Linked DNA regions of Homo sapiens: all the other regions are linked to region 1. Evidence: fine-mapped expression QTL. A gene starts in region 1. Each other region holds a variant in brackets. All regions are shown on one strand. Distances are between the middles of the regions.

Region 1 (5,085 bases):
TTTCTCTGCTAGCTGGGAGGGACACATACCATGTGGTTTCCCTCCAGTATGGTGGGCCCTCTCCTCTCTGGTGCTATATTGTCACCCCACAAGCAGCTAGTTCTCATCTGGTTTACTGGGAACCCCATCCCTTCCCACAGGTCACCCCAGCAGCTCCTGGTGGTCATCATGCAACCCAAGGCTCCTGTGAAGCCAGCAGGGGCCAGCGTCAGGGGTTCTGTGCTCAGAGGGTGTCTGAAAAGGAGCAATTCATGAGCCAGGCACATGGCAACTCCTTTCACTTGGAGTAAACCGGTGCTGGCCCAAACCCCCGATCCGGAGATGCTGTCAGGGAGATAAATGAAGTCCCTCTACCTGTGGATCCCCACTCCCTGGCTATGCTCACAGCTGCTGGCACTCGGGCAGGAGGGATGCCTGTTTTTGGCTCCGATAGGCCCACAGAAATTGTGTATCCCTGTGGGGGCATGATGGGAAGGTAACCAAGAGACTTCACTTCCCGTCTTCAAGCTGCTTCCTTCCCAAGAAACTAGAAAACATATCTTAAAGGAGGAGAAAATGCTGGTGCTGTTCCCTGTCACCGACCTCCTCCACACCCATCAGGAGGCCCTTGCAGCCTCAGCTTCTCAGCGCTGGGACTGTGGGGTGCGAAGAGAAGACAGGAAGAGGCCCCTCCAGTCTGCCCTTTGGTGGCTGGGGAGTCAGAAGACCTGCATGTAGGTAAGATACCTGGAGAACTCACTCCACCCTCTGTGCCTCAGTTTCCTCATCTGGCTCTGGCTCTAAAATGTCGCTCTCTCCTTGCCTCAGTTTCCCTCCAGGGAAGGTCATCTGTCCCAGGGAGAAGAACAAGGTGAATTCACTTCTAAGGGGAAAGTTCACTTCTAAGGGCAATAGACGGAATGTAGCCCATTTCTCCCAGGGACAGGGGCCGGAGAGAGAACAAGGATAAGGTGATAACAGAGGGTGGTGCTAAGAGATGGACCCTTTCTTGAGGGAAAACACATCTTCCTGGAGCGCTGCAGGCTGTTGAAGGAGAAAGTTCATCTCCTCATTCCCATCAGCACGGGCCTTCCTCTCCTCAAAGCCAACTCTCATTCTTTCCTTGAACCCACAAGAACAGCACACGCTCACACCCCCTCTGCTCACTTAGGTGTTTTTCATGAGCAATTTTCTCCTGTCCCCAGACAATCTAATTGCTGCTTACACCCATGATACCCTGGAGCCCCATGCGGAAGTTGCAACTCCCTGCATTCTCAGGGATGAGGAAATGGGGTGCTGGGGTGGGGGGAGGTCCTGGGGTCTAGAGAGGAAGAAGGGCCCCTGCCCCTCCAGAGGGCATTCGGTGAAGGCAGTGCCTGGGAGGCCAGCTCTGTAGGGCCTGCTCAGTGACCTTGGTCAAGCCACAGCACCCCTGGGCCTCAGTTTCCCCAGGGCCTTCATCCAAACACAACGTTCCTCTCTCAAGGCCAGGGCGAGTAGGGAGGCAAGAGCCTTTCTTTGGAAGCACATGGGGAAAGGGTGGCATTGTTCCCCTGGGGGCCCAGGAGCCCAGCCCGCCAGGCAGCAGCGCAGCAGTGACGTTGTCATAACCCATAACGGCGGAGCAGACTGCCCCCTCCCGTCCCAGCCCAGAGAGTGGGCGGCAGAGCCCCGGGGAATCCCTGGGTGGGGGAGAGGGTAGCCCCGAGCGGTAACTCCCACCTGGCTGTCAGGCAGGAGGCCGGGGACCCCCCAAGCAAACCTCCTACCCACCTCCGTTCCCCCAACCCAGTGAAGACCGGTCTACTAAAGCCACGCCCTCCCGGGTGGGCGGCTCAGGCCACCCTTTCCTGGGTACAAGCTAGAGACAGCCAGCGTGGCAAGGGACTGTGGCGCAGTCTCCCCTACCCCCATCCCTCCCAATGCAAGGTCTCAGAAAGCACAGAAACAAGCAATCCTTCCCCGCCCCCTCCCCGTGCGGGACCTGGATCCGGCGCCCCTTCTTCCCGGCCCGACCAGCCCCGGTCACCGCACCCGCATCGCGTGCTCACCACATTTGCGTCCTCAGCACCGCGGCCCCAGCCCCAGGCTCGGCGCTCAGGCCGCCAGGCTGCAGTGACAGGCTCCACGCTCCCCACCTGGGAGGAGACTGCCAGCGGGTCCTCCTCCTCGCCGGCTGGGCGAAGCCAGCCCCACCTGGCAAGGGACTGTCAGCAAATTCCTCTCTGCATCACTGTGAGAGAGGCATCCCGGCTCCTCCCAAGCAGGGGCCAACCTTGGCCCCGCCCCAAAGCTTCTCTGACCTGCCGGGGAACCCAGGCTGGCAGATCCTACGCGAAGACCCAGGCTCCGCCTCAGAGACCCTGTCGCTACCAGGAACCATCTGCAAATTACTATCTCAAACACACAAGGCTGCCGGTCCCTGGTTCCAGCTTGCTCCAGCTGCCCTGATGCATTGGGCCTTGGCAGCTCCTTTGCCACCTCCCCTCGCCCTCCCTGAGGCATGTCGCCTTTCCCAGTCTCCTTAGTCCCATCAGCCAGAAGCAAGAAAAGCCACTCCACTCCCACAAAGATAGCCCTCTGCCCCGCCCAAGGACCAGGTCCTGGCACCAGCCTAGTGGCTGGTACCCAGCTGCTACCCAGACTCCTTCTACAGCAAAGGAGTGATCTACAATTGGCCACAGCCCCACCAGGGAGGGCCAAGGGAGTGAGCTGGGTCATTTCCGGTTTGCGGTGGGCCACAATCCTGCAGGTATCAGAGTTTCATCAAAGTCCTGCCCACTCTGCTATAGACACTGGTTTTGACCCCGAGGACAGGTGCCAGTGTTTGCAACCCCCAAAGACCAGTGTGCAAAACAAGGGGCAGTAGTAAACAGCCTCTCCCTCCCAGGCAGGGGCCTAGGCACATTTATGTCATCGACATTATCTGGCACTTGCAGTACAATAGCTGATGGGAAAGAAGCCACTGCCCAATGCTCTCTGAAAGTGACTCCCTTTCACCAGTTAGGGCTGTTAACAATATGATAAGAATGCCATAGAGGAAGCCCTGTGAACACAAGGTCATGAGGTGCCAGAGGAGGGGGTCAAAGGCTGGTTATGCTTTCATGGGTTGATTTCCCCATAACCAGCAGCACAGCACCCCCTTCCACACAACCGTATCAGGCTGGCGCACTCTAGTCATCTCCCTCTTCCCCTGACCCCCTGGTTCTCATGACCCAACCACCCCACGAAGACCCAAGGGTGAGCCACATAGACAGACTCTGTCGAAGTCTATCCATTATCCACTCACTCGCCCAGGCTGGAGTGCAGTGGTGTGATCTCGGCTCACTGCAAGCTCCGCCTCCCAGGTTCACGCCATTCTCCTGCCTCAGCCTCCCGAGTAGCTGGGACTACAAGCTCCCGCCACCACGCCCGGATAATTTTTTTTTTTTGTATTTTTTAGTAGAGACGGGGTTTCACCGCGTTAGCCAGAATTGTCTCGATCTCCTGACCTCGTGATTCGCCCGCCTCAGCCTCCCAAAGTGCTGGGATTACAGGCGTGAGCCACCGCGCCGGCCCACTCATTATCTTTTTCATTCACGGGACGGGAAGACTTTTGAACACGTATTCTGCAGTGGCAACAGGGCATCAGGGTCTAGGTTCCAGCCCTTGCTTAGCGGCTATCATGCTGTGCAACCTTGGGTAGCTCACTTGATCTCTCTTTGTTTTTCCCTCTCATCTGTAATTCTGAGAGGGCTGGGCTAGTTGAGGTCTCACACCCCTCTGCTCTGACACCTTTATTCTCTTCTAGGATAAAGGCTGGCGGGTACAAAGACAAATCAGATCAATACAAGAATAGTGCTGGGAACGCTAGCTGCCTGCATTTCAGTCCCAGCTGGGCCACCTAAATGTGGGACTTAACCTCTCTGTGCTTTTTTTTTTTTTTGGCATATGGAAAATGGGGGAAAACAATAATCATAAGCTTAAAGGGTGATTGTGAGGATTAAATGAAATACCATGTACAAAATAAATGCTCTGCAAATATTCATTGTTGTTGCTGTAGTTATGCTATTCACAGTCTGGTGGGACAGCATAAATTCTCAACAAAAGCAGTTCGTCTTTTCCTTCTCTGCTTCATCATCACAGAAGCTGTTGTAAGCCCATATCCAACCCACTCCACCTCCTAGAGGAGAAACCTGATAAGCATCAAGGTCATGCCGTAAAGAGAGGCCAGGTGTGGTGGCTCACGCCTATAATCCTAACAGTTTGGGAGGCTGAGGCGGGCAGATGACTTGAGGTTGGGAGTTCGAGACCAGCCTGGCCAATGTGATGAAACCCAGTCTCAACCAAAAATACAAAAATTAGTCGGGGGTGGTGGCGGGCACCTGCAATCCCAGCTACTTGGGAGGCTGAGGCAGGAGAATCACTTGAACCCAGGAGACGGAGGTTGCAGTGAGCTGAGATCATACCACTGCACTCCAGCTGGGCGACAGAGTGAGACTCCGTCTTGAAAAAAAAAGAAAGATACAGTAAAGGGGGACGGAAGCCAGGTGTGGTAGCTCACACCTGTAATCCCAGCTACCTGGGAGGCTGAGGCAGGAGGACTTCTTGAGGCCAGGAGGTTGAGACAAGCCTGGGCAATATAGAGAGACCTACATCGGAGAGGAGAGGAGGGGAGGGGAGGGCAGGAGAGGGAAGGGGAGGGGAGGGGAGGGGAAGAGAGGAGAGGAGAAAGAAAGAAAAAGAAAGAAAGAAAGAAAGAAAGAAAGAAAGAAAGAAAGAAAGAAAGAAAGAAAGAAAGAAAGAAAAAGAAAGAAAGGAAGGAAGGAAGGAAGGAAAGAAGGAAGGAAGGGGAAGGGAAGGAAGGGAGGGAGGGAGGGAGGGAAGGGAAGGAAGGGAGGAGAACCCATGGAAGGAGGAGAACCCATGGAGATGCCAGGTGGGCTGTGTGGTGGGGAAAGAGATGACCCCAATGTCCCAACCAACCACCTAGATGAGTGTCAGCTTGTAGAAGGTTCTCAGTAAAGGTGTATGGGTATGAATAACTGAGGCTTTCAAAAGAAAGGCCCTTCTGGTCTGTGACACTGAAAACACTTATCATGCTCTCACTTGTGGATTGGGGTGGGA
Region 2 (5,085 bases), 58 kb before region 1:
TTCTGGAGCTCCTTTAGGACTTTGGCCCAGTCCTAAGGATCCTTCTGGAACATTCCAGAGTGGACTGAATTCACTCCTTGTCAACGCATGGGCTGCCAGAGGCTGGGGCAGAGAAGAGAGGGGACTGTAGAGCTATGAATTAGGGGAGGCCTGCGGCAGGAGAAGGGCAAACAGAGCTGCTCTATCCTGACGCTCTCTTATGGTGAGGAGGGAGTGATGTGTGTGTCAGCTGGGCGCAGTGGCTCACACCTGTAATCCCAGCACTTTGGGAGACTGAGGTGGGCAGATCACCTGAGGTCAGGAGTTCGAGACCAGCCTGGCCAACATGGTGAAACCCCGTCTCTACTAAAAATACAAACATTAGCCGGGCATGGTGGCAGGCACCTGTAATCCCAGCTACTTGGGAGGCTGAGGCAGGAGAATCGCTTGAACCTGGGAGGCAGAGGTCGTAGTGAGCTGAGATTGTGCCATTGCACTCCAGCCTGGGTGACAGAGCGAGACTCTCTCAAAAAAAGAAAAAAAAAAAAAAAGAAAAAAAAAAAAAAAGAAAAAGGGAAAAGGGATGTCATTCTTGTCAAGGGCAGAAGAGGGACCATGAGGTCAAAGGCTTCTCTGACCACCTCTGTGCTAAAGCAAGGACAGGGAGTGAGGAGCCCCGGCCTGGGCACCCCTTGAGAGCAGCTGGGCCCCAGCAGCTGGGGGAAGCAGGTATGGCCATCTCATCCACTGGAGAGCCAGATGGCAGCTGCCTGTGACGAGCATGGAGGGCCCAGGGGAGGCAGAAGGGGAAACTGGAGGTGGAGAGGGAGGAGAGTGCCGAGAAGCAGGAGTATGCTTGGGGCTGGGTGGGGCGCCTGCCTGGTGCTCACCGCTTGGCCATCCTGGAGTCCTGGAAGGTGACAAAGATCAGGTCCAGCCGCTTGAGCGGCACGCGGTTGAGCTCGGCGTTGAACTCGTCCGTTAGCTGCTCCTCTAGCTCGCTGTAATACTGCTCTGCATCCACCTGGGGTGGCAGGCAGCCTTCAGGGCTGGGGCCAGAGCCCCAGGAAGGCCTCCCTGGTCACGAGGTTCCTCCCCACTCAAGCCTCCCTGGATTGTGGTGGCCTTGAAGCACCTCAAGGAGCCCAGGACCCTGGCTGGCCTCCAAAGTCCCACCTCTAGAACAAGAAGAGGCGATGACTGCCATTCACCCCTGCCCTTAGATCTGGGGAAAGTGAGGCATAGCTAGGGGTACCCGGGGGCTTTCAGGCTTGGGGTGGACCCCAGAGAGGTGAGAGAATGTGTTTGCCGCATTTCCACGAGAGAGGGTGAATCTCTGGGCTGGCAGAAGTTCGGCATGGTCCTGAAGCAGGTGTCTGAGTCTCGACGCCCTCTTTGAGCCACAGTGGTCAGGTGATAAGACAAGCTGTTGCCTTCAAATGTTTCTGTCCTATCTCTTTGGGAGCCTGAGGCCTGGCAGCCTCGTGTAGCCTGCTGTGTTTTCTCTGGTCCTTCTCTCTCATTCTCCCATCCAAGACCAGAAAGGAGACAGCAGCAAGCTTCCCTGGATTGTTCTGAAGGTGGCCTCCAGAAAGGCTCCCATCTCAACAGGGAGGCAGGACATGGTGGATGGGGAGGAAGGAGCTGGGTGGGGAGCACTAGAGCAGACCTGAGTGAGGCCTGGGGCCCAACAGTGCGGGCAAAGGCACAGAGCCTAGAGCCCCAGGACCCCACCGCTCCCTTGCTGTGCTCCCAACGCTCAAGCCAGTTACCTCCTTGAAGCAGGTCCAGCACTTGCAGAAGCACAGGCGGGCACAGGGGTGGATCCTGATCATCACCTTCCCAGTCTTCTTGGCCTTGGCTGTATAGAAAAGCCGGCCCCGCATGGCATGGCGCCTGCCAGCGGTGGGCAACAGGAGAAGGACCTGCAGGTCAGGGGCCAGCAGAGCCCCATCCTCCCCTTTTACCCCCACCCCGGGCCCCAAAAGGCCCCGCTGCAGCCTCACCTCTGATCGTCCAAGTCGATCAGGTTCCTGACGTCGTAGCAGAAGTGGACTCTTGTCACGACACTGCCTGGATAGGCCTCGCTGCAGCCACAAACATGGGTGCTGAGTCGGCCTGTGGGGTTGGGGATGTGCTGCCCCTACCCCCTGCCCAGCATGTCGGCCCTGAGGGCTGGGTGGCTCAGCTGCCTGGTGTTCCTGGATGGGATACTCCATCTCTGCTCCTAAAGCTGAACCTCAGGGTTTGAACCTTGGCAATCTGAGAGCTGCCAAATCCTTCCTACACAACTCAGAACAGGGCAAAAGGGCGGAGCTCCACCCACTGGGGAACCCAGGAGACAGCTGTTCACGAAGAGATAATTAGCTCAGTGAACAGTGTCCTTGGGGCTGGGAACTTGGGGTCACAAAGGATGTCTCCAGATGATCT[T/G]CTCTAAATAGCTGTGATCCAAGGTTCCCTGTGCTCAGTAGTTGAAGCAACAGGAGAAAGAAAAATTCCCATCACCCATATCACAGCCATGCCATGCAGGAAGTCCCTGACTTCAGACACCCTGCTCCAGCTCCAGCGGCCCTCCCCATTCTAAAAAGCTGATCCTGAGCTGAGTCCAGGGAGAGCCACCCCGGGGTGTCCCAGTCCCACCATCCTGCACCAACTCACTACCCACTTGAGGACCCAGGCGGGGTTATGGGGAGGAAGCAATCCACGCCTTGGCCTACCCCAACCCACTTACTGAAAATGCTTAATGATGAGTTCTGGGTCTTCAATGTCCTTGGGCACATAGGTGATCATTAGTGTCCTTGTGACCTGGGTGGGAAAAATAAAAATGGAGAAAGAAGACTGTGCTTGCATAGGAATTCCAGACACCTCAGTCTTTTGGTGGCTCAGAGCAGGCCTTCTGCTCACAGCAGGCTGCTGATGCCAGTGCCTCCTTGCTGAGAGAGCCAAGAAAGCCAGAGCCAAGCTGGGACACTGTGGGCCAAGGAAGTGCCAGCTGCCTTAGCCCACAGCGTCCCAGCTGAGCCAGGCAGCTCTGAGGTTGGTCAACTGTGCTTCCGTTCTCCTCTGTGCCCAGCTGTGGGTGCCCTGCTCCGGACTGCTGTGGTGAAGGGAGGAAGGACTGGAAAGCTGCCATCAGGCTGGGGTGGAGGATCAGAGCTCCATGATTGGAAAGAGCTGCCAGAGCGACCCCACAGTGATTTCTGCTCTCCCTGTAGCTTCCACTGTTCCAGCGTAAAGCCTCACATCTCTAGGGAAATCCCTCACGTGAGACTGGGCCGGGGAGTTGGGAAGTAAACAAGACTCTGGGGAGAGGGTAGGGAAGCTTCCCTAAACTTCACACTTTATTCTGTGAATGGGAAATATCTTCCTGGGTCGTCACCTTTAAGATGACAGTCTGGTAATTGTGCTGCAAGAATCAGGGGTCTTGAAAGAGGCTTCTGGTGACAAGAAGGAAAGCTGAAGTAGCAGACACCAGACTGGTCAAGGGTGACCAAGCCTCCATGCCTGGCAGGCTGAAGCATTTGGGTTCACTTTTCAGGGAATGTGGATTTGCACTCTGGGGTGGGTTCAAGTGAATCAGTCCTTTTGAATGGACGGCCTGGAAGGAGCTGATTCCACACCACTGAACCTTTGAAAGGCTGAGGACGGGAACTAAGGATGCTCCTCACTCTTGCCCATCCCCAGCAGAGCATGGGTGCTGGTCCAGATGGGTGGCACTGCTGGTGCCTGCCCGTGGCCCCCCGTCAGTCATCTCTGCACACCAACACCTGCAGCATGCTTCAAATACTGCGACTGCTCTTTCCCGGCCTTGGGGCATGTTCAGCTTTTGTGCAGGGCCAAGTAGGGGAGGAGTTAAAGCCCCCAAGCGCAACCCTCAATGAACGGTGGACAGGGAGCTGGTGGAAAATACCCACGATTGCTCACCTCCAGGAAAATTCTGGGGCATGTGCTCTACACCAGCTCCCAGAGTTCCCTGGTCATGAAGCTCCACTTGCCCACAGGGGTAAGTTGCCCCTCCATGCTCCCTTTTTTTGGTTGCCTTTGCATCCTCACTCCCTTACTGGCCTTTCCTGGGATCACCTCCCATAAACAAGCGCTACTCATTCCAAGTCTCAGGGTCTGCTTGGATGGGGTCACCCAAACTGAGACGGTGGGGATACACGGGGGTCTCTGATCTCCGAGAGACTGCAGAAGGGCGAGGCACGGGCCTAGCAGGGGTGGGCAGGGCCAGGTACACTAAGTAGCAGCAGCTCAGCAGGGCCCAGACCACTTAGCATGGAGGCCCCCGCTGGTCCACTGGGCCTTGTTAATCCTTTAGTTTTCAGATGGTGGGAAGTCCAAGAGTCCCTGGGGAGGGGCGGGGCAGCAGAGGGGCAGGGATAGGAGGTACCTGGGCAGCAGCTATTTACCAACCAGTCTGAAAGTTTCATTAGGGGTGAGAGGATGGAGGGTGAGAGGGTGAGAGGGTGGAGGAGCGTGAGAGGGTGGAGCAGCGTGGAGGAGGGTGAGAGGGTGGAGGAGCGTGAGAGGGTGGAGCAGCGTGGAGGAGGGTGAGAGGGTGGAGAAGGGTGAGAGGTGGGGGCCAGGTGATTGTTACTAGGACTGAAGGGAGGAAGCTTGGCCCCTGCTCAGGTGAAACCGCCCCCTCCCATCTATCACAGTCTCCCTGGACCCTCTGAGGGCTTCTCTGAGGGTTGGAAGTGGTCAGCCCAGTGGGGAGGGACCCCAGCTTCCCACAGTGGGAAGCAGCTTTGTAGGCTACTTACCTTTTGGCTATTCCTGGGTGCAAACCCCAGGCAGTGATGAGCCATGAACATGAAGTTGGTGATGAAGTAGAAGAAGGACAGCAGGCTATGCAGCCACAGGAGCTTGCTCCTGCAGGGAGGGAGGCAGCAGCAGTGAGGTCAGCCTGTGAGCTCCCCAGAGCCCACTGCACAGAGACCCCTGGGCCTCCTCCTACCCTCAGTCTCCTGGGGCCCCCCAGCCCATCACAGTCTCCTCAGACCCCCACAACCATCCAAGTCTCCCCAGACCCCAACCCATTACAGTATCCCCCACCCCCACCCATCACAGTCTCCCTAGACTCCCCCTACCATCACAGTCTCC
Region 3 (5,000 bases), 79 kb before region 1:
CCTTTTTCTTCCCAGCTTTCTCCACCTCAAACCAGAGTGTGCTGAGTTGTTCATGCTGAAGATCTGGGAGTCATCCTTGCGTTCCTGCTTTCCCTCAGACCCCACATCTAATCATCCATGAATCCTCAACCTCTGTTCCAAGTTTAACTGCTTCTTTATTCACTCCCTATCCTGGTGCAAGCTACCATATTCTCTCTCCTGAATGCCTCTGACACAGTCCCAACTGGGCTTTTTTTTTTTTTTTTTTTAGACAGGATCTCACTCTGTTGCCCAGGCTGAAGTGTGGTGGCATGATCATTGCTCACTGCAGCCTTGAAATCCTGGGTTCAAGGAATCCTCCTGCCTCAGTCTCCCGAGTAGTTGGGACTCCAGGTGCATGCCACCATGCCCAGCTAATTTTTAAAATTTTTGTGGAGATAGGGTCTTGCTTTGTTGCCCAGGCTGGTCTCAAGCCCCTGGCCCCAAGTAATCCTCTCACCTCAGCCTCCCAAAATGCTGGGATTACAGGTGTGCACCACCACACCTGGCCCCAGCTGGGCTTTCTGCTTCTACTTGTCCTACCCTGGTGACAGTGACCATTTCAGCACATAAGAGTTACATGGGTGGTGGCCAGGGGCTAAGGGGAGGAGGGAATGAGGAATTATTGATTATGGGTATACAGTCTCAGTTTTGCAAGATAAAGAGTTGTGGAGGATGGCTGGTGGTAATGGTTGCACATTACGAATGTATTTCATGCCACTGAACAGGACAGTTACAAATGGTTAAGATGGTGGCCGGGCGCGGTGGCTCACGCCTATAATCCTAGCACTTTGGGAGGCCAAGGTGGGCGGATTGCTTGAGGTCAGGAGTTCGAGACCAGCCTGGCCAATATGGTGAAACCCCATCTCTACTAAAAAATACAAAAATGATGATGGCATATGCCTGTAATCCCAGCTACTTGGGAGGCTGAAGAAGGAGAATTGCTTGAACCTGGGAGGCGGAGGTTGCACTGCACCCAGATCACGCCATTGCACTCCAGCCTGGGTGACAGAGCAAGACTCTGTCTCAACAACAACAACAAAACAAACAAACAAAAAACCCATAAATGGTTAAGATGGTGAATATGATTATGTGTACTTTACCACCACCACCACAACAAAAAAACCTGGAAAACAAACACATAAGGGGATCATACTCCTACCCAGAATCCTCCCATAGTTTCTCAGATGATGAGTGAAACTTGGAGTCCCAGCGTGGCCTGCACAGCCTGTTGCCCACTCAGACCTCGCCCCACCCTCTCCTCCCCTCGCTCACTCTGCCTGGTTCTTTGGGCTCCGCATGTGTGCCCACAGACCCTTTGCTGGCTCTCATGTCTCACCTCCACAGAGCTTGTGCTGGCCTCTCTAGTGCAAAGCATCCTCTCCCCACCTACAGGCACCCCTTGCCCCTATCCGGCTTTGTCTCTCCCTGACACCCCATTATGTAGGCCTATTTGTTTACTGCACTTGTCACGTTCTGTTGCACGGAAATGGGCAGGCGGTCATGGAAGCCACTGGGCTCTGTGTTTGGAGGGGAGGGAAGAGGGACAGTCTTTGAACCCTTGCTGAAGATGACAAGGTAGCCAGAAGTGCCCCTGACACCTGGTGTGTGGCCCTCGGGCCCACATGGTACTCATACTTATTGCAAAAGAAGATAAAGATGGCAGAAGCGTGCCTGAGCTAGGGAGTTGTCATTTCTAAGCTGGCGATGGTGAGATGCTGAGGCCACCCAGGGCATGCAGTGCCTGAGGTTGGGACTGTTTTCCTTATCCACTCACCCCTCCCTGCACACTGGAATCACCTGGGGGACTTTTGTAAAATACAGGGTACTGGGCCCCACCTGAGAAATTTTGGTTTTTCAGGGATGGGGCCTGGACATTGAGAGTGACTCTCCTTTGCAGCTGGGCTGGAGAACCTTGGGAATTGAGGCTGAGAGCTGCCGGGCTGCCACTTGTCCAGGCCGAGGGACTGTCAGATGTTCTGAAAGCAGCCTCTGTTCAGAAAGCCTGGGAACCTGTCTCCCCATAGACCAGGCTCTCCTCGCCTCTGCAAGGCCTTCCACAGAGCAGACCTAGAAACCTGGAATCTGGCCAGCAAGGAGGTTCCTCAGGACAGAAGTGAGCTGCCTCAGGCTTCCCTGGCGGGGCCCCGTGCAGCCCCAGGCTTGGTTTCTGGGCAGAGGCATGGGGCACTCTCAGGCCCCGCTGCTTCCTCCCTGCGCAGCACTCGGTCACGTGCTCCAATCCTTTCTTGGGCACAGCCCAGTGGAGCCAGCCTCCTGGGGCTCCCTCTTGCCCTGCCCCAGTCCCGTCCCCAGCCCAGGTAAATCCACCTTCAGGCCTCCGGTCCATCCTGGCCTGCTGAGTGGAGAGAGGATTGACCAACACTAACCTCCCTGGAGGACATTCCATCCTTGGGGAGACCGCCCTCCCTCTTCGGCTTGTTTTTCTGTCTCTTTCTCAGTCTCTGCCTGATAAAAGGCCCTCGAAAGGTCTGCTGAACCACAGAGTGTCCCAGGCCTGCCATCTGGGGACCCTGGAGCTGCCGGCCCCTGGGAGGGGACCATGAGAGGCAGCAGCAGGGCGCAGCCCCGTCCCGTCCAGTCAGGGAGTCTTCATGGCTTCTCTCCTGCGAAGCAGCCCTTGTGGATTTTAAGGGCTGACTTGACTTGGAAAATAATTGTTTTGAGGGGGAGAGGGGACAAGTGGACGGGTCTTGATCCCACGCCCAGGCCCACACCTTGGTAGACTTTGAGTCAGTGGCCACTGATGGACCGTAGAAGTTTGCGGAGAGGACCCAGCGAGGATGATGCAGGAAAGAGTCCTTAGGCAGCCACCCTGAGACTGTCATCCTCTGTCCCCATAGGGAGCACTGCGG[G/A]AGGAAGTCTCCCCCTACTCAACACACCCACAAGATTCCCATCTTCTGCCCTCAAATCTGCTCTGCTCAGTCACGAAGCAGAACAGTCCGCTTCATGTCCTCCCAGCCCTACTGTCTGGATGAGGTGACCAGCCTGGGTCATGCAGCTGCTGGAGGAAGGGACAGAACCAGTCTCCTGACCCTGAGATGTGTCCGCCAGGGCAGGGAACTGTTGTCTCCTTGCCACAGTTATAACAGCCTTTGCTAACGGGTGTTTCTTATCCCACCTGGCTGCCCCACACACTTCCCTCGTGCCAACCTCTCCTCCACCCAACCTCTCCTCCACCTCCCCCATCCCCCAAGTCCCCCACCCTCATCCTCTTGCAGACCTGAGCCCTGTCTGCCGCTCTTCCTGGGGCCTCACCTGAAATCTGTGTGTTTTGAAGTCTGGCCACTAGCCTAGCCCAGTGGCCTGCTCATGGGGCTCAGCACTCACCAGAGACTTCTGCTGCTCCTCGGGGCTGCCCTGCTGGCTTCCTGGGTAGCTCAAGGACCAGAAAGTTCTCTCCACTGCACAGCGGAGCAAGGCCAGGCTGGCCCAGATGCACAGGCAGAGAGGCAGGGGCCAGGAGAGGTTGGGAGGACTTGTTTATTCAAGGCACGGTCATAGCATTAACAAGAAGGTTCAGCATTCTGGCACATTCCTTTTGTGGTGGTGGCCAAGGTTAGCCCACACCCCCTCCCCCCCGACCGGGGGCCCCAGAGGACGCAACGCTGCTGATAGGCACTTTGCTTCCAGGGGCAGTGGAGGGTCAGGCAGGTGGGCATGGGGCCACTGGAGGCCTGAGGAGGGCCCCTCCTGGAGGCTCTAGGCAATACCGGTTCCTGGGCGGCAGCTCCTTCCAGAAAGGATTAAGTCAGGAGGTGATTTGGTGGATGGAGTGGGGTGGGGCGGCTGGGAAGTGGCTGGCAGAGGAGTGGGATGGCAGTAGGTGGGGGGAGGGGGGCAATGGGTGAGGCAGGTGTGGGCTGAGGCAGGAGGTGCCTGAGAGGGCCTGGATGTGGTGGCGGGGGGAGGCTAAAAGATGCCCCCTGCTCCACCATCCTGTAGTGACCATGGGAGGTCCAGATGGAGCCAACTGCCATGAGGCTTTGCTGGTTCCCCTAAGAGTGGACTATGGAACCTTCTCCACATGCTCACCACCTTCTCTCAGAGCCAGGCTACACTGGACCCAGGTTCAGAGGGAGAAGCCCCCAGTCATCCCGCCACATTGTCTGCCAGGACTTTTCCCATATGTGGCTTCCACAGTCCGGCAGGGGCTGCAGGGGCTGGGGGCAGGGGCCAGGGAGCTGTGTCCAGCAAAGAAGAGACCCCAGGCCAGCTTCTGGTGTGACCCCCCACACCCCATACACCAAATACACATGATGGGGTCGGGCAGGGCCTGGAGCTGGCCACCTCCCCATCATGTGCCAAGCTCCTGCTGGGCCTGACCGCTATGCTGTAACAGCGTACTTTCCCCTTGTTGGTTGGTGAAATTCCAGTGGGGAGGGGGCCTGTGGGACCTGGGTGTGTAGGGGCCAGGCTAGGACCATTTCCCCTTTATTCCTAGCTGGACAAGGAATGGGAAAGACAGCCTCTCTCCAGCCAACCCAAGCTCTCTGGAAAGACACCCTCATGCCAAAATGTGGGCCATGCCCTGGGGGTATAGCAGTTTCTGCCCATTGAGCACAATTTCTCACCTGCGGTGAAGCTTGGAGCTTCTGGGGCTAGGATGGGGCAAAGGTGGGGCAGGGACAAGGTCTAGGTGATCTGAGTTCAGGGCAGCCATGTGCCTGGGGCCTGGTGCAGGTGCTCAGGTGAGGTGAGCCGGGGGCCGGCCTTCAGTAGGTTGGTGGCAGGGACCCAGACCTTTGGGGGAGGGGGCTGAAGAGGGCCCTGGAGCACACAGACCCCATTCAGCTTGGCTTGTTCTGGTTCATTGAGGCCCCCACTGGCCCTTCTCATGTCCTCCCTGGCTGGGCTGCACGGTGGTCCTGATGAGAGCCCATCCCAGAGGCAGAAGCCGGTTCCCCCCGGCTGTGGCAAAGGTGCTGAGTGTCACCATCACTGTTCGGAATTCAGCTCCC
Region 4 (5,085 bases), 26 kb before region 1:
CCCACACCACCTCTTCACTGGAAGTTCCAGGCTCTGGTATTCCTCCCATTACCCTAGAGGCCACTGGCCTGGCTACTTCCTCATGGTACCCTCTGTTCTGCCCCACTAGCCCCCTTATTCAGAGTTGCTTGCCCCACCCCTACACAGCTTGAGCCACTTCCTCCTGGACTTGGGTGAGCCTTGGTCTCATCAGCATTTAAAGCCCCTGAGTCCAGCTTATATTGTACTCCTCTGAACCCTCTTTCAGATTACCAGCCCTGTCTGAACCTTGTTCCCACCCTCTTTACACAGCTGGCCTTGCAACCACTGCCTGGGACCATCCTCTCATTTTCCCATGCACGTGAGCAGCCAGCTTACCAACAAATCCATGGGCTCTTTGATAGTAGGGACCATATCTTTCTCTTATACTTTTCATGGTTCTCCCAAAGACCATCACGTAGTAGGCCTCAATGAGAGACAGAAGGCCCTTTACCCAGAGACACACTCAAGGGTAGGAAAGAATAAAATGTAGGTGGTTTGTACACATTTGCACAGTGCACAGAGTACATGAATCCCAAATTTTTGCCCCCACATAGCGCACATTGGCTACCAAGTTTCCCTCCAGCAGTCGCTGCAGGGAGTGGAGGGAGCATACAGCTGCAGGTAAGGAGACTGGGTGTGAATCTGGCTCTATTGTTTATCAGCTGCTAGTTAACCTCTTGCTATTCAGTTTTTTCTTAAAGATCATATCTGTCCTGCCTATACCAGGGTGATTATGAGTGTTAGTTAAAGGGCATAGTGCATGGAGACTCTTTCTGTAAACTGTGCCACAAACTAAGTTGTTGCTTTTGCTGTCCTCTTCATAGGATCGAAGCCAGCCTTCCCCGAGAGGTCCCCAAACGTCCCTCCGCTGCAGTCACTCCTGAAGCCTCAGCATGGGGTGAGAGGATTGCAGTTCCACCTTCCATTGGGCCCACGATGCAAGCAGAGCAATGATCCCGCTGCCCCTGGCTGGGTCCAGCTGGGCTCTCAGCACCATGGACAGCACCATGCTGGGCAAAGGCATTTCTGCTTCTGCTGCTCTCTGCCAGGGCTCGTGGGCAGGGCCAGGCAATTCTCGCTGCTGCCCCAGCCCAAGAATAAGAATAACAGCTAACACTTATTGAGTGAGTTCTATATGCCAGGCCCTGTGCCAAGTCTCTTCAGGTGTCGACTGGGTTAAACCTATCAGGTTGCATATGGGACACGGTTGATACCCTCAGCATCCATTCCCACCTCTGTGCCTTCCTATATTGCAGAAGCTGGAAAGTTAAAAGGTACATTTCCAACACTCCCTTGCAGCTGGGGTTCTGGATACAGATTAGAGCTCTTCAATTAGACATGCTGGAGATAGATTTACAAGGCTGAAGGGAGGAGAGGGAGGAGGAGGCGATCTCCCTGGTGCTCAGGCCGTGTTCTGCTGACAAGCCATGCCGAGGACAGGAAGGGATTCTCTGCAGGAAGTTCAATGCCCAGTCTCTGGCTCCCAGGGAGGGGGTGGTGTGAGAGGCAATTGTGGCAAAAGCTGCAGCAGTTTTCTCATCCCTAGATAGCAGGTGAAAGGACGTGAACTCTGTGGCTCCAGTAATGGCCCTCCTGACTGGGTGAGGAGTAATTTGTCTGGAGGGACAGTTCTGCTCTGTTCTGAAGACCCAGCTTCTAATTCTTCCAGTGATTTCGAGACCCTGCGATTCCCTGTATGAATCAAGCTGACTACAGCATCATGTCCCAGTCCTGGTTTTGCTTAAGATTCCTAGAGTGTTTTTTGTTTCCTGTACAAAGACCAGGCAGGTTCTATTATTATCCCATCTTATGAATGAGGAATTTCAGGCCCAGAGAGGTTAAAAGACTTGCCCAGATCAGGGAGTTAGTACCGTGAAGTTAGGGCCTGAGCTGGGGGGCTGGTTCCACAGCCCCCTCCTGATCACTTTGCTATGTGCCACCCTCGAGGCAGAGAACGCTGATTCCAACAAGCAGGAATGAAGCTGCTAGGCTCAAGACAGAAGTACACTGAAAAAAGGAAAGGCTGATAGAGAATACTGGAACCACACTCCAGGCTCCTATGGGTGTAGCCCCTGAGGGGGCCTCAGGAGAAGAAAGGGGCAGGAAAGGACATGGGCATTTGTGATGGGCCAGGCCTTCTTATGGCTATCCCACTGAACATCGTTTATTCCTCACAAGCAACATGAGAGGTAGCAGCCTAAGAAGTAAGAGTCAGTATCCCCATCTTACACGTACAGAAACTGAGGCTCAGAGAGGTTAAGTAACTGGCCTAAAGTTACACAGCTGGAGAGAGACAAAGGCAGGATTAGAATCTAAGTGTCTGCCTCCACTACATCACGCAGCCTCCGAAGGCACAAGCCTTTGAAGGAACAGAGCAGCTTTGCCCAATTCCAGGAGGACTGTATTTCT[G/C]GGGTACAGGAGGATGGCCTCCCACATCTGTACTACATCTAAGGGACTCTCAGCTAAAGAGAAGGACCAGGCAGCTTCTATTTTTATCCCATCTTATGAATGAGGAATTTCAGGCCCAGAGAGGTTAAGAAACTTATCCTCTTAACACCTCTGTGGGTGGCAGATGGAGTTGGGACGCCATCAGGGGAGAAGGTGGCCACTTGGACTCAGGCTGGAAGCTGAGTGTGTTGGCTTCCCCACCCCATCCATCTCACCTCTGGGACCCCCACAGAGATGCCTCTCCTTGCCAGGAAGTTTCTTTTCCTTGTCCTCCAGACCCTGGACCCCAACCCATGGCTTTCTGCCTATGCCCCTGAGTAAGTGAGCAGCCATGATGGTGCCCAGGGGGTGCTGGAGACAGAAGGCAGAGGCAGCTGTGGGGCTGTCACAGTCACCCAGGCCCCTGGGAGCTGGGCAGTGACTCAGGGAGACACGGGGAGGAGGACAGGTGACTTCATGCCTGTGTTAAAAAGGTAAAATAGGAAATAAAAACAGCAGGATACAATGCTGTTAAATGAAATGATCTGGATTCTAAAAAAAAATAAAAGAAAAAAACTAAAATTATATCACATTCTTTTAACAGTCCTTAACATTTTTTTCTGAGTTTGAAAAACTATTTAATATGAACATGTATTGTTGCTTCTAATTAGAAAAAGATCATATATTAAAAGGAAGGCTTGAGATTGACAGATATCCATGTAATCAAGCTTTCCTCCTGCATCAAATCCCTCTTCCCTTCCTCAAATGCCCTCATTCTGATCAGCTCCCACTCAGACTTGTTGATGGGGAGGAGAGGGTGGAGGGACTGAGCTCTCACAGTGACATGCAGCCCAGTGGTTCCTGTGCAGGCTGCCTACTCAGAAAGAAGAATCAAAGCCTGAATCCAATGCCATCTCCTCTCTCTCCCCTGTCAGGGCCTGGCTGGGCCATGGGCAGGCAGATCAAGAAGCCAAGGTGGTGCATCATCGAAGCCAAAGTGGCCACCAGGTCCCTGGGCGTCTGCCTGAAAGCCAGAGGCAAGCCTCCCTCCCTGCTCCACCCCAGGTCAGTGGCTCCTCCTGACAGCAGTGGTACTGTGCTGACTACAGCATCAAGTCCCAGGGGCAGAGATCAGGAAGAGGACTTGGAGGCCTCCCTGGCACAGCTCTCACTAGGGCAGGCAGGGGCAGCCTCCCCAGCCCCCTGCCCTGCCCCTCCCACCTCCCCACCCCCTCAATGGATCAGTGGAAGATGGTAGCTACTGAGGCCCCTCTAGTCATTTTTTGGGGTGGTCTAAACCTAGACTCCTATAGGGAAGAGAACAAAAGAGAAATGGTAGCCTCCAGGAGGTAGGGGGCGGGGTCCTGAATGGGCCTGGCCTCTGGATTACCTCTGAGCCTGACGGAGGGCCTATGTGCACTCTCCTCCAGGTGACAAAGTATGTTTACAAAGTCATCTCACCTGGCCCCCAACAGTCCTGCCAGAGAAGAGGTGGCAACTGTCCCCATTTACAAATGAGGATGCTGAGGCCCAGAGTGGGTGTGTAGCCTGCCCAGGGTCATACAGCTAGCAGCTGAACAGCAGGGGTGGAGATCTAAAGCCAAGGCCCGAGCTTCTGCACAGCTCCCTGCTCCTTTTGACATCTGAGCTCTCTGCTCCTGGCCTGCTCCTGGGCAGAGGCTGGGACCAGGGGAGGCCCTCTTGGCCCCAGGAGCCCCTCCAGTCTCACCTCCCCCAGCTCCCCACGAGGAATCTCAGCTCCAGCCGATGGAAGGCCCCTTGCCCATCAAAGGCCTTGGTTGTCTCTGCCCCCTCCATTCCTCCCCTCTGTGGAGGACCTTGATCCTCCCCCAACGGGAATGCTCCATTGGCAAGGCCCAGTTCAACTCTGCTTTCTTCAGGGAGCCTTCTGGGTACACCCCCTGGTCTTGCTGATCTCACCCTCCCTTCCATCCTACTGTTCTCACTTATTCTTTCCTGAGTTCTCTACTGGATAGGGGTTGCTAAAGAGGATGAGATGTGTTCCTCCCCTCCTCAAGCTCATTCTAGGTGAATGAGAAAGGCCTTGGCTGAAAGGCAGTGATAACGCAGTGTGAGAAGGGCTCACAGATGAACCGAACCCAATCTGCAGTGCCTGGGGAGGCCTCCTGGACCAGGCTGTGATGGAATCAGCTAGAAGGGCTTTCTTCGCTCTCCTTAACTTGGCCAGCAAGGCCTGGGTGTGGGGCCCTGCCTAGTGTTCTGGCTTCATCATGTCAAACTTCCCCCTCACTTCCATCTCCAGCCTCCTAGGTTGTTCCCTCAGTTCCTGGAGCATGCCACCTTCCCTCCTGCCACAGGGCCTTTGCATATGCCAGTCCCACCACCTGGAAGGTTCTCTCTCCCATTACTTGATTCATTCTCCCCCTGGTTAATCTCAGCTCCATTTTTGCTTCCTTAGGGAAGAGCTCAGGCCAGGCCCAGCTCCCCAAGTCCTGTGCCTCTGAGCATCTTGGGAGGCAGGCATCATGTATGCAGCAAATGTGGATTTCTAGTACTAGACTCTCTGGGCCCAAGTTCTGCCTCTGCTACTTACTAGCCCCATGTCTTTGGGCAAGCTTCTTAACCTCCCTATGCCTCAGTTTCCTTGTCTGTAAA
Region 5 (5,085 bases), 47 kb before region 1:
TCATGAAATACTAGACAGCAGTGGTCCCTAACCTTTTTGGCACCAGGGACCAGTTTTGTGGAAGACAATTTTTTCCATGGACCTGGGTGTGGGGTGGTGGGGGGGCAGATAATTTTGGGATGAAACTGTTCTACCTCAGATCATCAGGCATTAGTTAGAGTCTCATAAGGAGCAGGCAGCCTAGATCCCTCATATGTGCAGTTCACAATAGGATTTGTGCTCCTATGAGAAGCTCATGCCGCCGCTGATCTGACAGGAGGCAGAGCTCAGGTGTAATGCTCGCTCACCTCCTGCTGCGGGGCCAGGTTCCTAACAGGTATCGATCTGTGGCCTGGAGGTTGGGGACCCCTGTTACACAGCAATAAAAATGAATGACCCATAGCTGAACCTCACAAACACAATGCTGAGTAAAAGTTACCAGGCACAAACAACACATACTGTGTGGTTTCAAACATAAAGTTCAGCTATAGGCAATACTGAGCTATAGAGTTAGAATGGGATGGGGATGAAGGTTGGGGGACAGGAAGAGAGCTGCTGGGTATTGGCGATGTTCTAGTTGTGGATCAGGATGATGGTGGCACAGCCTTAGCTTTGTGATGACTGAGCTGTACATTTTTTTTTTTTTTGAGACAGAGTCTTGCTCTGTTGCCCAGGCTGGAGGGCAGTGGCACGATCTTGGCTCACTGCAACCTCCTCCTCCCGGGTTCAAGTGATTCTCCTGCCTCAGCCTCCCGAGCAGCTGGGACTATAGGTGTGCGCCACCACGCCCAGCTAATTTTTTGTATTTTTTAGTAGAGACGGGGTTTCACCATGTTGACCAGGATGATCTTGATCTCTTGAGCTCAGGGGATCCGCCTGCCTCGGCCTCCCAAAGTGCTTGGATTACAGGCGTGAGCCACCATGCCGGGCCGAGCTGTACATTTTTTGGTGTGCACTTTTCCATGTGCATGCTATACTTCAATTTAAACAATTTAAAAGCAACAAGTGCTCATAGAAACTTTGGAAAATATGAAAAAGAAGTAAATAATTCATCTACAATCTCATTGAACCTAAGACAATGATTAAAAAGCATTTGTGGCTGGGCATGGTGGATTGCGCCTGTAATCCCGGTACTTTGGGAGGCAGAGACAGGTGGATTGCTTGAGCCCAGCAGTTCGAGACCAGCCTGGGCAACATGGTGAAACCCCATCTCTACTATATATATATATATATATTAGCTGGGTGTGGTAGCATGTGCCTGTAGTCCCAGCTACTCTGGAGGCTGAGGTAGGAGGATCGCTTGAGCCTGGGAGGTTGAGGCTACAGTGAGCCAATATCATGCCACTGCACTCCAGCCTGGGTGACCTGGGGAACAGAGCAAGACCCTGTCTCAAAATAATAATAATGATAATAATAAGCATTTGGACTTAATTTTTGTTTGTTTGTTTGTTTTGAGACAGAGTCTCACTCTATAGCTCCGGCTGGAGTGCGTGACATGATCTTGGCTCACTGCAACCTCTGTCTCCCAGATTCAAGTGATTCTCCTGCCTCAGCCTCCCAAATAGCTGGGATTACAGGTGTGTACTCAGCCAAATTTTTGTATTTTTAGTAGAGACGGAGTTTCACCATGTTGGCCAGGTTGGTCTCAAACTCCTGATCTCAAATGATCTGCCCGCTTTGGCCTCCCAAAGTGCTGGGATTACAGGTGTGAGCCACCATGCCCAACCTCCTTTATTTTCTTGTTGTGTTCATTTTACTTGGTGATTATAGTTATAAAAAGCATTTGATGCACTGCTCTTTTGCTTGGCATTTAATCTCAAGCATTTTCCGATGGTTTTACGTAATGGTGACAGTGGCCTCTGTTGATGGAGCACTGGTTCATGCTCAGCACCATGCAGGCCTCCCCACTCCACTGGTGGACACACCATGGTTTACCCACCCCTGCCCCCTTGTCAGGATTGTAGGTTGTATGCAAAACTAGCATCCAGTCTGGGATTCAGATTTATTTTTAAGGCCGGGTGCAGTGGCTTATGCCTGTAATCCCAGCACTTTGGGGGGCCAAGATGGGCAGATCACTTGAGATCAGGAGTTCAAGACCAGCCTGGCCAACGTGGTGAAGCCCTGTCTCTACTAAAAATATAAAAATTAGCCAGGCATGGTGGCACGTGCCTGTAATCCCAGCTACTTGGGAGGCTGAGGCAGGAAAATTGTTTGAACGTGGGAGGCGGAGGTTGCAGTGAGCTGAGATCGTACCACTGCCCTCCAGCCTGGGCGACAGAGTGAGACTCCGTCTTAAAAAAAAAAAAAAGATTTATTTTTAAACAATACTACAAAAGGCACACCTTCAAGGTTTTCAATGTTCTCATTTGAGGAATTATTTAGAGCTCTTGATTTTTTAACTTTGAGCGGCTAAACGTTTCCCTCCCTGGACTTGAGAATGAAATGCCAGAAGTGGAATGGATGAGAACTTCTGGAGAGCGGGGGAAGGTCCTCTTGCACTGCCTGAGGCGGGGTGAGGTCCAGGAGCCTCCAATCAGGTGGAGAGAGCAGAGGGCTGGACAGGACTGGATGGCACTGAGAGCACTAGAATTCTCTTCCTGGGCCAGGAATTCCTGCCTCCACCACTAGGCCTGTTTCCTTTCTCCATCTTTCTTGTAAGTGCCCCACCCTGACCTTCCAGCCAATCGCCCTTCTTCCTACTCACAATTAATTCTCTGTCTCTGCTCTCATTGCTTCCCTTCCTTCCACCTCTTTCTGAAGACGTGCTGGATCCATTGTTCTGCTCTCTCATCTTCGGCATCCTCCTCTCTCTGCATGCACCTGCGTCCACCCACACCTCTTCCCTGTAAACTACAACCAGGCTCAAGTGCTTGTTGGTTCCTCTGTAATAAAACAGCTCCTCAAGGATCCACTCTCTGATCTGTTCCCTGACCTGTTTTCCCTCCTCCTTCCAGTAGCTTCACTTCCCTCCTTCCATGCACCTCTGGAAAAAGGTGACCTTCCTTCTCTGCCTCTGTGTCTTGGACATCCTATCCTCGGCCTGCCCTCCCAACAGAGA[C/A]CCAACTCACCAAAGTCAATGTCCTTTCCTCAACCCCCATTCTACTCCACCTCTGTAGCACTAGAGGTTTCTGGGTCGCCCCACCCTAGAGGGGAGCCTTGTCCTGGCCTGGCTTCACTGAGTCCAGCCCAGAGGATGCCTCTTCCTCCCGCCTCGATGAGGCACTCCCTTGGGCCGCTTCTGGTCTTACATCCTTGGATGACCCATCTGCTCCCATGACTTCAACTACAGCCTCCATGCACCATCTCCCAAGTTGAAATCTCTAACTCTGACCTTTCTCCTAGGCTTCAATCTTGTTTTTTCAACAGCTCCTTTGTCAGCTTGCATACTTGCCCTGACTACATCTCATCATTTTGTGTTTCCTCTCCCACCTAATGGCATTACTACCCTCCCCAGAAACCAGACCTCAATTTCTCCCTCTTTCTTAACTAGGCCACAACCTACTGACTGTAGCCTTATGATCTCCCTCCCATCTTCCCCTCCCATTGTTTCTCTAGTCACTGCCCCGGTTCAGGTCACTAGCACCTCCCACCTCGACCATTGGAATAGCCTCCTTAACTGCTCACCTTGACTTTGGACTTTCTCTAATGCCATTCACTCTCCATACTTCTGCCTACACACATATATTGTTCTGAGTTTCCAGCTTAAAAATACTAATTGGCTCTCTACTGTCTCTAGATGAAAGCCCAAGATTCTCAGTATGCCAGCCAAGGTCCCAGCTGAGGCCCAGTGCGGTGGCTCATGCCTGTAATCCCAGCACTTTAAGAGACTGAGGCAGGTGGATCACCTCAGGTCAGGAGTTTGAGGCCAGCCTGGCCAACATGGTGAAACCCCGTCTCTACTAAAAATACAAAAATTAGCTGGACATGGTGGCACGTGCCTCTAATCCCAGCTACTCGGGAGGCTGAGGCAGGAGAATTGCTTGAACCCAGGAGGCGGAGGTTGCAGTGAGCTGAGATTGTGCCACTGCACATCACCCTGGTGACAGAGAGATATTCTGTCTCAAAAAAAAAAAAAAAAAAATCCCAACTGATCCTTCCAGCCCAATCTTTTACCCTCCCCCGCCACACTTACCATGAAACCTTGCTTCTAGTCACACCAGATTTACCATGTCTGTGCACACCCTACTCATCTCTGCAACAAACTGGCTCACACGGTCCTTTACTTCTGATGTGCCCTCCACATCCCACATCGCGCCTGTCGAAACTCTTCCTGTCCTCCAATGCCCAGCTCAAAACTATACTTTTCCAGTTGGAATTAATTTCTCTCTTCCCCACATGCCGTCTGCACAGCAATTATAACCCTCCCATTCTGAATGCTACGAAGGGAGTCTTGTTCACCTTTGTTTCTCCAACCAGACCGCATGGGTTTGTGCACGGGGACGCTACTTGACTTATTGCTGCTCAGTAAACGCATTAAGCTGTCTTCTATGACACTGCTCTCAAGAGCTGCTGGATGCACGGTGCAATGCCCTGCCTTCCTGCTTTCCCAGATGCTGGGTCCCTGACAGAGGGGCCTCTGTGATAGGAGTCTTTGGGTAGGGGTGGGGTGGAGGGGTTTAAAGGATGGGCAGGACAGGACAGGTGGAGCACACTGAGGGAGAGCCCATGAGTGTGTGGGGTCTGAGGTGGAGGCAGAGCTGTGTGCACACGTGTACGTGTGTGTGCGTGTATGTATGAGTGTGCATGTGTGTATGCCTACGCAGTGGGAACATAGAGTTCCGGTAAGTGTCTGCTCTGCTGAAGCGTCTGGCTGGTGTTGGGGAATCAGGAGAAAACACGTAACTTGAGGTCAGCTTGCAGGAGAAAACAGGTGACTTGGGGGCTGCTTGCTTGCAAAGTGGGGTCTGGCATTCAAGAAACCCACAAGGTGAGGTGGGCAAGGGCTGCCCCTCTGCTCTCCAGGCACTGAGGCCGAGCGAGGCCTGCCCTTCTGCCCGATGTTTGCTTGGGCAGAAGGGCGAACACATGATATGTTGAATGATGTTCACAGAAATCAAGCAGATAGCACAAAGGAAGGGTTTCTTTTTCCTGGTGTGGAGTTCACAG
Region 6 (5,085 bases), 100 kb before region 1:
ATTTAGAACTTGAACTCTAGTTCTATGAAGTGAAGAGTTGGACTCCTGGACTTCTGGTTCCAGGAGTCATACTACTGTTTTTTGGTTGTAATAGTGAGTTTTGGGACAATGCCAATCACCTGGGATATTTCTTTGGCCTTCTTGTAACCTTGCCCATCTCTATCATTGAGCCTAATTTGGTCTTTGACCTTCATAACATGGTGGCATCTGGGTGGCCATTTCCCTTTCTGACACGTTTTCTCTAAAGTCCCCTCACTTTCTTTGTATTTTTTTCTTGGCTTTTATGGCAGAATGGAACAGGGGACTCAAATGATTTCTGGCGGATTGAGGTCGTAAACAGGAAATTTGGAAACCGGATCAAAGTGCTGAGAAGTCGAATTCGCTTCATCCATTTGGTCACAGGTTGTGTCCTGGGCTCCTCGGGAAAGGTTCTGCCCAAGTGGTAAGTCTCTAGGGTTTTGCTGTCCCAATCGAGGGTCCTGATTTTCCTTTCACTCTACAAGGAGTATGCCAGAAGCTTTTGTTTTCCTGTGTTCACCTGCTGTCTGCTTGTTCTTAGTGGCAGATGGAGGGAGAGTAGATATCAGGTGTATTATGGAGCACAGAACTCCGGGGGAGCTTCGGTGTTTTATGTGTTCTGATAGTTCAACATTTTCACATCTGGCTGGTGCTAATAACTCTCTGGGTCTATGTCTTTTTCTAAAATGGGAATACTGTATGCTAGACTATCCTAGGATAGTTGTCCAACATGGAACATGAAGAAATAATGGCCACCATGTGGAAAAGAGAAGGAGCCTGTGGATTTAAGAGCAGAAGACAGTGTCACTCTCTGGTGGATTTCACGTCTTCTGAGAGACATCTGTGACTTCTGCTTTTCACAGGGGCTGGGAGCAGTTGGAAGTTACTTGCACCCCATACCTGAAAGAAACCCTCAACTCCATCTGGAATGTGGAGGACCATATCAATCCCAAGTGTGAGTGAGGTCACTTTCTGGGCTGGCTCTGGAGGGAAGCATTTATAAGAAACCCTTATCTTAGAAAAGTAAGCGTTTGTAAACTGTGCTATCCCTTCAACTTGCTGCTGTTTGTTCCTTGTTAACACTCTCTTTCTATGAGTTGTCTGTACCTACATAGCATACTCCTTTTCCTTCTCATCCACTCCCTCCGTAAACTCCTCTCCCTAAAGTGGCCAGTGGCCATCTGCAGATCCATCTGTCTCGTCTTCCTCTGGGCTCCTCTCTCCCCTGCACCATGGGCACCTCCCCAGCCTCCAGGCTTGGAGCAAGCTGCTACTTTCCCTTTATGCCTCAGTGTAGAGTCGCTCCCCCGCCCCCCCACATATCCAGCCAATGCTTTTATAGAAAGTGACTGCCACAGCCCTGATCTGTGCCCCACATCTCTACACCCAAGCTCCAATTTGATATTTCCACTGCGTTGTCAGCTTCAACTCAATAAGTATTTGGATTCATCATCTGTTTTCCTAAACTACCCACCTCAAGCTTATGTGTGCCTTCATTTTGTTCTTCTTCCCACCTAATCTAGCCAAACCCACTAATCAACTAATTCAACAACTCTTTATCAAGTATGCCAGGAACCACATGGGGCCCTGTGGACATATTGGCGAGGAGACAGACTTGGTCCCCATCCCGACAGCAGCTGCTCCAGGCGTCCAGAATGATTTATTCCTCATTCCCAGGCCCTTCAAAGGGCCACAGTGACTCGGGGGCTGTGCAGCTGTCCCTTATGCCTAATAGGAGAGCAGCATTTGAGCCAGTACCACAGTGAAAAGCAATGGTGCTGGGAGCTGTTGGAGCACCAAGCAGGTGAAACCTTGTTGTCTATTTCCTTTGCATTTCTTAGAATGCCTGATGAGTTCTTCATACAGCTAAGTAAATGATCAAGAATTGGGCCAAGCTTTCTTCTGTCTCCTCAACAGTTGTGAACTTGTCAGCAAGGCTGCATTTGGATTCTGGTGGGAATGTGGACACCATGGACAGACTGAGGAAAGAATGTATGACAAAGGCTTTTCTCCTGCATTTTTTTCCCCTAGTGCCAAACATCAGCCTGGATGTGCTACAGCCCAGTTTTCCTGAGATCTTGCTGGAATCCCACATGGTCATGATCCGGGTATGTGTCCCCTTCTCATTTCATGGCGTCTCTAAGAGCTTTTGGGCAGCCATGAATTTGGATCACAAGTCAATGCCATGCTACAGATCCATTCCCCCTTGTGGAGGAATTTGAAAGCATCTTTACTACGGTTTTCTGTGATCCTCAAAGGCATTTCCCTCACCACAGAATGAGGATGGTGGTGATGATGGTGATACCAGTGACTGCTTGTACAGCTCATGTGCCAGGCACTACGCTAAGCACTATACTCATCTGATACTTATTA[C/T]AATCATATGGAGGTTGCCATCATTCCCAGTTACAGGAGAGGGAACTGACATACAAAGAGGTCAGGGAACTTGCCCAGGGTCACACAGCTAAGTGTAAGAGGTAGATCCAGCCCTCAGAGCCAGGCTGGTAGGCTTTTAGAGTTACTGCTAGTTACCACTACACTCCTTCACCTCTAAGTGATTTGTGAATCTGCCCAAGTGGCAGAGCCCCTGAAAATCATAGTGCTCTTGGTTGAAGATCATGAGATACTGATAGTTCATTCCATCATATGAAATCAGGATCAGTTAGGATGGATAGCTAATTTGAGTGTGTTGTTTATATGCAGCATGAAATCCCAGCCACGAGCCCACTCATATTCCTGGACAGAAACTGCTTAGGCAGGGCATGATTGATTCTTTTTAAGGTTTTCTAAGACATTGTTTGCACTCTCTATCATTAGTAGCTGACAGCAGTTGTAGCATCAAAGGTTTAAGAAAAATTCAGAGAAGAAATCTTTAAATTGAGAAAATTCTACTCACTAGCTTAAATTTTCCCCTGCTGTAGTCCTGCTGTTTAGTGGAAGACCCCCTTATTCTGGCTTATGGAAAACCTGTGTTCTGCAGGAATAATGTTTAAGAATCACTATCTCAAGCCAGATATGTGATTATCACTCTACCCACAGCATTGCAGGGAGGTGTAGCACTTGTTATTTTTCCCCTGGTAAGCCATTGTCAAGTGGACTTCCCTGGAAGTGATTATGTAAGCAGTACTCAGTACATATAGTTGACTTATTTCACCAGATTAAATTTTAAAAATTCAAATTTTGTCATTTTTGCGCATTGGGAGGTGATAAGTTGACATTAAGCATCTCTGGGTCACTTCCTTTCTGACTCTCTGCTTGTAGCTGTCACTGTGGCCTGATGACATAGCTCTTTTGAACATGTGCCTGTCAGTCAGAATATCATTCTGGGCCTGGGTCAAATTTTAAGACTAAATCTACGAGTTTCATTTTGTCTTTCATTATCTAAGAAGTAGAGTCAGAGAAGAAAAGGGAAGTAATGAGAGCTTTCTTATTCAGCCAACAAAGAGTCAGGGAGGGGAGAGAGATGAAAACAGTGAGTCCAGACTATAGAAACTGCAGGGGCAGGGCTCTTCCGCTGGCTGAGTAGTGGCCCGGGACCTGGAGGAGAAGGCTGCCTTGCCTGGTGCAGTTACAGGAATGAGCCCATCCAGATTTCAGCCATAGAGAACAACTTACAAGTACATATGCCTGTGATGGTTGCAGATTTTTCTTTCCTCTTTTAGTTTAGCAACAGAGCAGGATTTCTCAGAGTTTAATGTAGTGAATAAGATTCCCTTGGCTTGGTACAGTTCTGGCTGGAGTCCTTGGGTTTGGGACCAAACTGTACAATTTGAAGGAATTGGTTTCCCTCAGCAACTGCCGCAGGGGTCCAGAATGATTCATTCCTCATTCCCAGGTCCTTCAAAGGGCCGCAGTGACGCTGGGGCCGTGCAGCTGTCCCCTTTGTGTCTGATGCCCTGGATGCACTTTTGACCTTGGAGGCACAACCTCTCCACCATGTAGAGGCCTGTAAACTATTCCCAGCCCCTTGCTGAACTGGATTCATAAGGCACTGGGTGGCAGTCCACTGAACTTTCTGGGTCTTTCTTAGGCTATACCAGTGGTTCTTAATTGAGGGTGATTTTGCCTCTCGGGACTTTTGGCCATCTGTGGAGAAATTTTTGGCTGGGAAACTGAGGGGTTGAGGGTAGGAGTGCTACGGGCATTCAGTGAGTGGAGGCCAGGAATGCTAAACACTCTGCAATGCACGGGACAGTCCTCACAGCAAAGACTCATCCAGCCCGAAATGTTGGGAGTGCTGAGGTGGAGAAGCTCCGGCCTAAGTCATGGCAGCTGACTCCCCTTCTGGGGAAATGCCTTTTCAGTCTGTCCCAGTGATAAGGCAGAACCCAGTCCTAGTGGTTAATATCCTGGATCCTGACCCTACTCCTTCCTGTTTTAGCAAAGACCTGGTTTGCCCTGTAGAGAAAGGTTAGCAGATGTTCTTGGCTGCTGGATTAGGGAGGCTGAGTCTGGGTCCTTCAAACCAAAGCATGCATTAGGGTTGATTTCTCTCCCAATAGATGAAATGTGTTCTTGGAGGGCAAAATATCTAATTTTTTATGTATAAAGCACAAGTAAGATGTACAGTATAAAGTATTAAAATGTCATGGAGTGTGTTTAGGGAGAAACTTGTCTACAAAGGCTCCTGGTAGAGGGGCAGTAGTGGAAAAAAAAGGTGGAGAAGCACTAAGCTAAAGCAACCTCTTCCAAGTCTAGGCACGCATGAGAGTTTCTGCTTTTCTGTTTGAAATTGGCCCCTGAAGGGAACAAATAAGTAAGCCTTATTATTTATTTATTTATTTATTTATTTATTTATTTATTTATTTATTTTGAGACTGAGTCTTGGTCTTTTTGCCTAGGTTGGAGTGCAATGGCATGATCTCAGCTCACTGCAACCTCCGCCTCTTGGGTTCAAGTGGTTCTCCTGCCTCAGCCTCCCAAGTGGCTGGGATTACAGGCACCCACCGCTACGCTCAGCTAATTTTTTGTATTTTTTAGTAAAGACGGGGTTTTACCATGTTGGCCAGGCTGGTCTTGAACTCCTGACCTCAGGTGATCCACCCGCCTCGGCCTCCCAAAGTGCTGGGG

Direction of the effects. Positions count from the first base shown, and alleles are read on the strand shown. Sizes are in standard deviations (SD) of each study's normalised expression. Not every link is listed here.
In carriers of allele C in region 5, the expression in left ventricle of the gene that starts at base 2,130 in region 1 tends to be lower than with A alone (small effect, 0.36 SD a copy in GTEx).

Evidence for each region. PIP is the estimated chance that this variant, and not a neighbour inherited with it, causes the effect.
Region 2: its variant is the best candidate, but not a certain one, in a credible set for the expression of TMEM63C in whole blood (TOPMed, PIP 0.71).
Region 3: its variant is the best candidate, but not a certain one, in a credible set for the expression of TMEM63C in whole blood (INTERVAL, PIP 0.72).
Region 4: its variant is the best candidate, but not a certain one, in a credible set for the expression of TMEM63C in whole blood (TOPMed, PIP 0.85).
Region 5: its variant is the best candidate, but not a certain one, in a credible set for the expression of TMEM63C in left ventricle (GTEx, PIP 0.87).
Region 6: its variant is the best candidate, but not a certain one, in a credible set for the expression of TMEM63C in whole blood (INTERVAL, PIP 0.61).

What each region holds. Positions count from the first base shown.
Region 1 is chr14:77,178,843-77,183,927 of GRCh38, reverse strand. It overlaps TMEM63C (transmembrane protein 63C), which reads right to left and starts at 2,130. Exons shown (of 24, transcript NM_020431.4): 1 at 2,034-2,130. RefSeq lists an enhancer at 1,680-1,809.
Region 2 is chr14:77,236,393-77,241,477 of GRCh38, reverse strand. It overlaps TMEM63C (transmembrane protein 63C), which reads right to left. Exons shown (of 24, transcript NM_020431.4): 9 at 4,746-4,854; 10 at 2,711-2,784; 11 at 1,986-2,066; 12 at 1,752-1,875; 13 at 870-1,003. Among named protein-coding and RNA genes, the nearest start is that of MIR1260A, 27 kb to the left of the region's middle. The variant T/G (reference allele first, on the strand shown) is at 2,410.
Region 3 is chr14:77,258,000-77,262,999 of GRCh38, reverse strand. TMEM63C (transmembrane protein 63C) reads right to left here. Exons shown (of 24, transcript NM_020431.4): 24 at 3,505-5,000. LOC124903351 (a long non-coding RNA gene) reads right to left here and starts at 3,181. Exons shown (of 2, transcript XR_007064276.1): 1 at 1,858-3,181. The variant G/A (reference allele first, on the strand shown) is at 2,895.
Region 4 is chr14:77,204,818-77,209,902 of GRCh38, reverse strand. All of the region lies in intron 1 of TMEM63C (transmembrane protein 63C), which reads right to left. Among named protein-coding and RNA genes, the nearest start is that of TMEM63C, 26 kb to the right of the region's middle. The variant G/C (reference allele first, on the strand shown) is at 2,431.
Region 5 is chr14:77,225,743-77,230,827 of GRCh38, reverse strand. All of the region lies in intron 6 of TMEM63C (transmembrane protein 63C), which reads right to left. Among named protein-coding and RNA genes, the nearest start is that of MIR1260A, 38 kb to the left of the region's middle. The variant C/A (reference allele first, on the strand shown) is at 3,038.
Region 6 is chr14:77,280,838-77,285,922 of GRCh38, reverse strand. POMT2 (protein O-mannosyltransferase 2) reads left to right here. Exons shown (of 21, transcript NM_013382.7): 13 at 291-442; 14 at 882-973; 15 at 2,050-2,126. Among named protein-coding and RNA genes, the nearest start is that of NGB, 12 kb to the right of the region's middle. The variant C/T (reference allele first, on the strand shown) is at 2,392.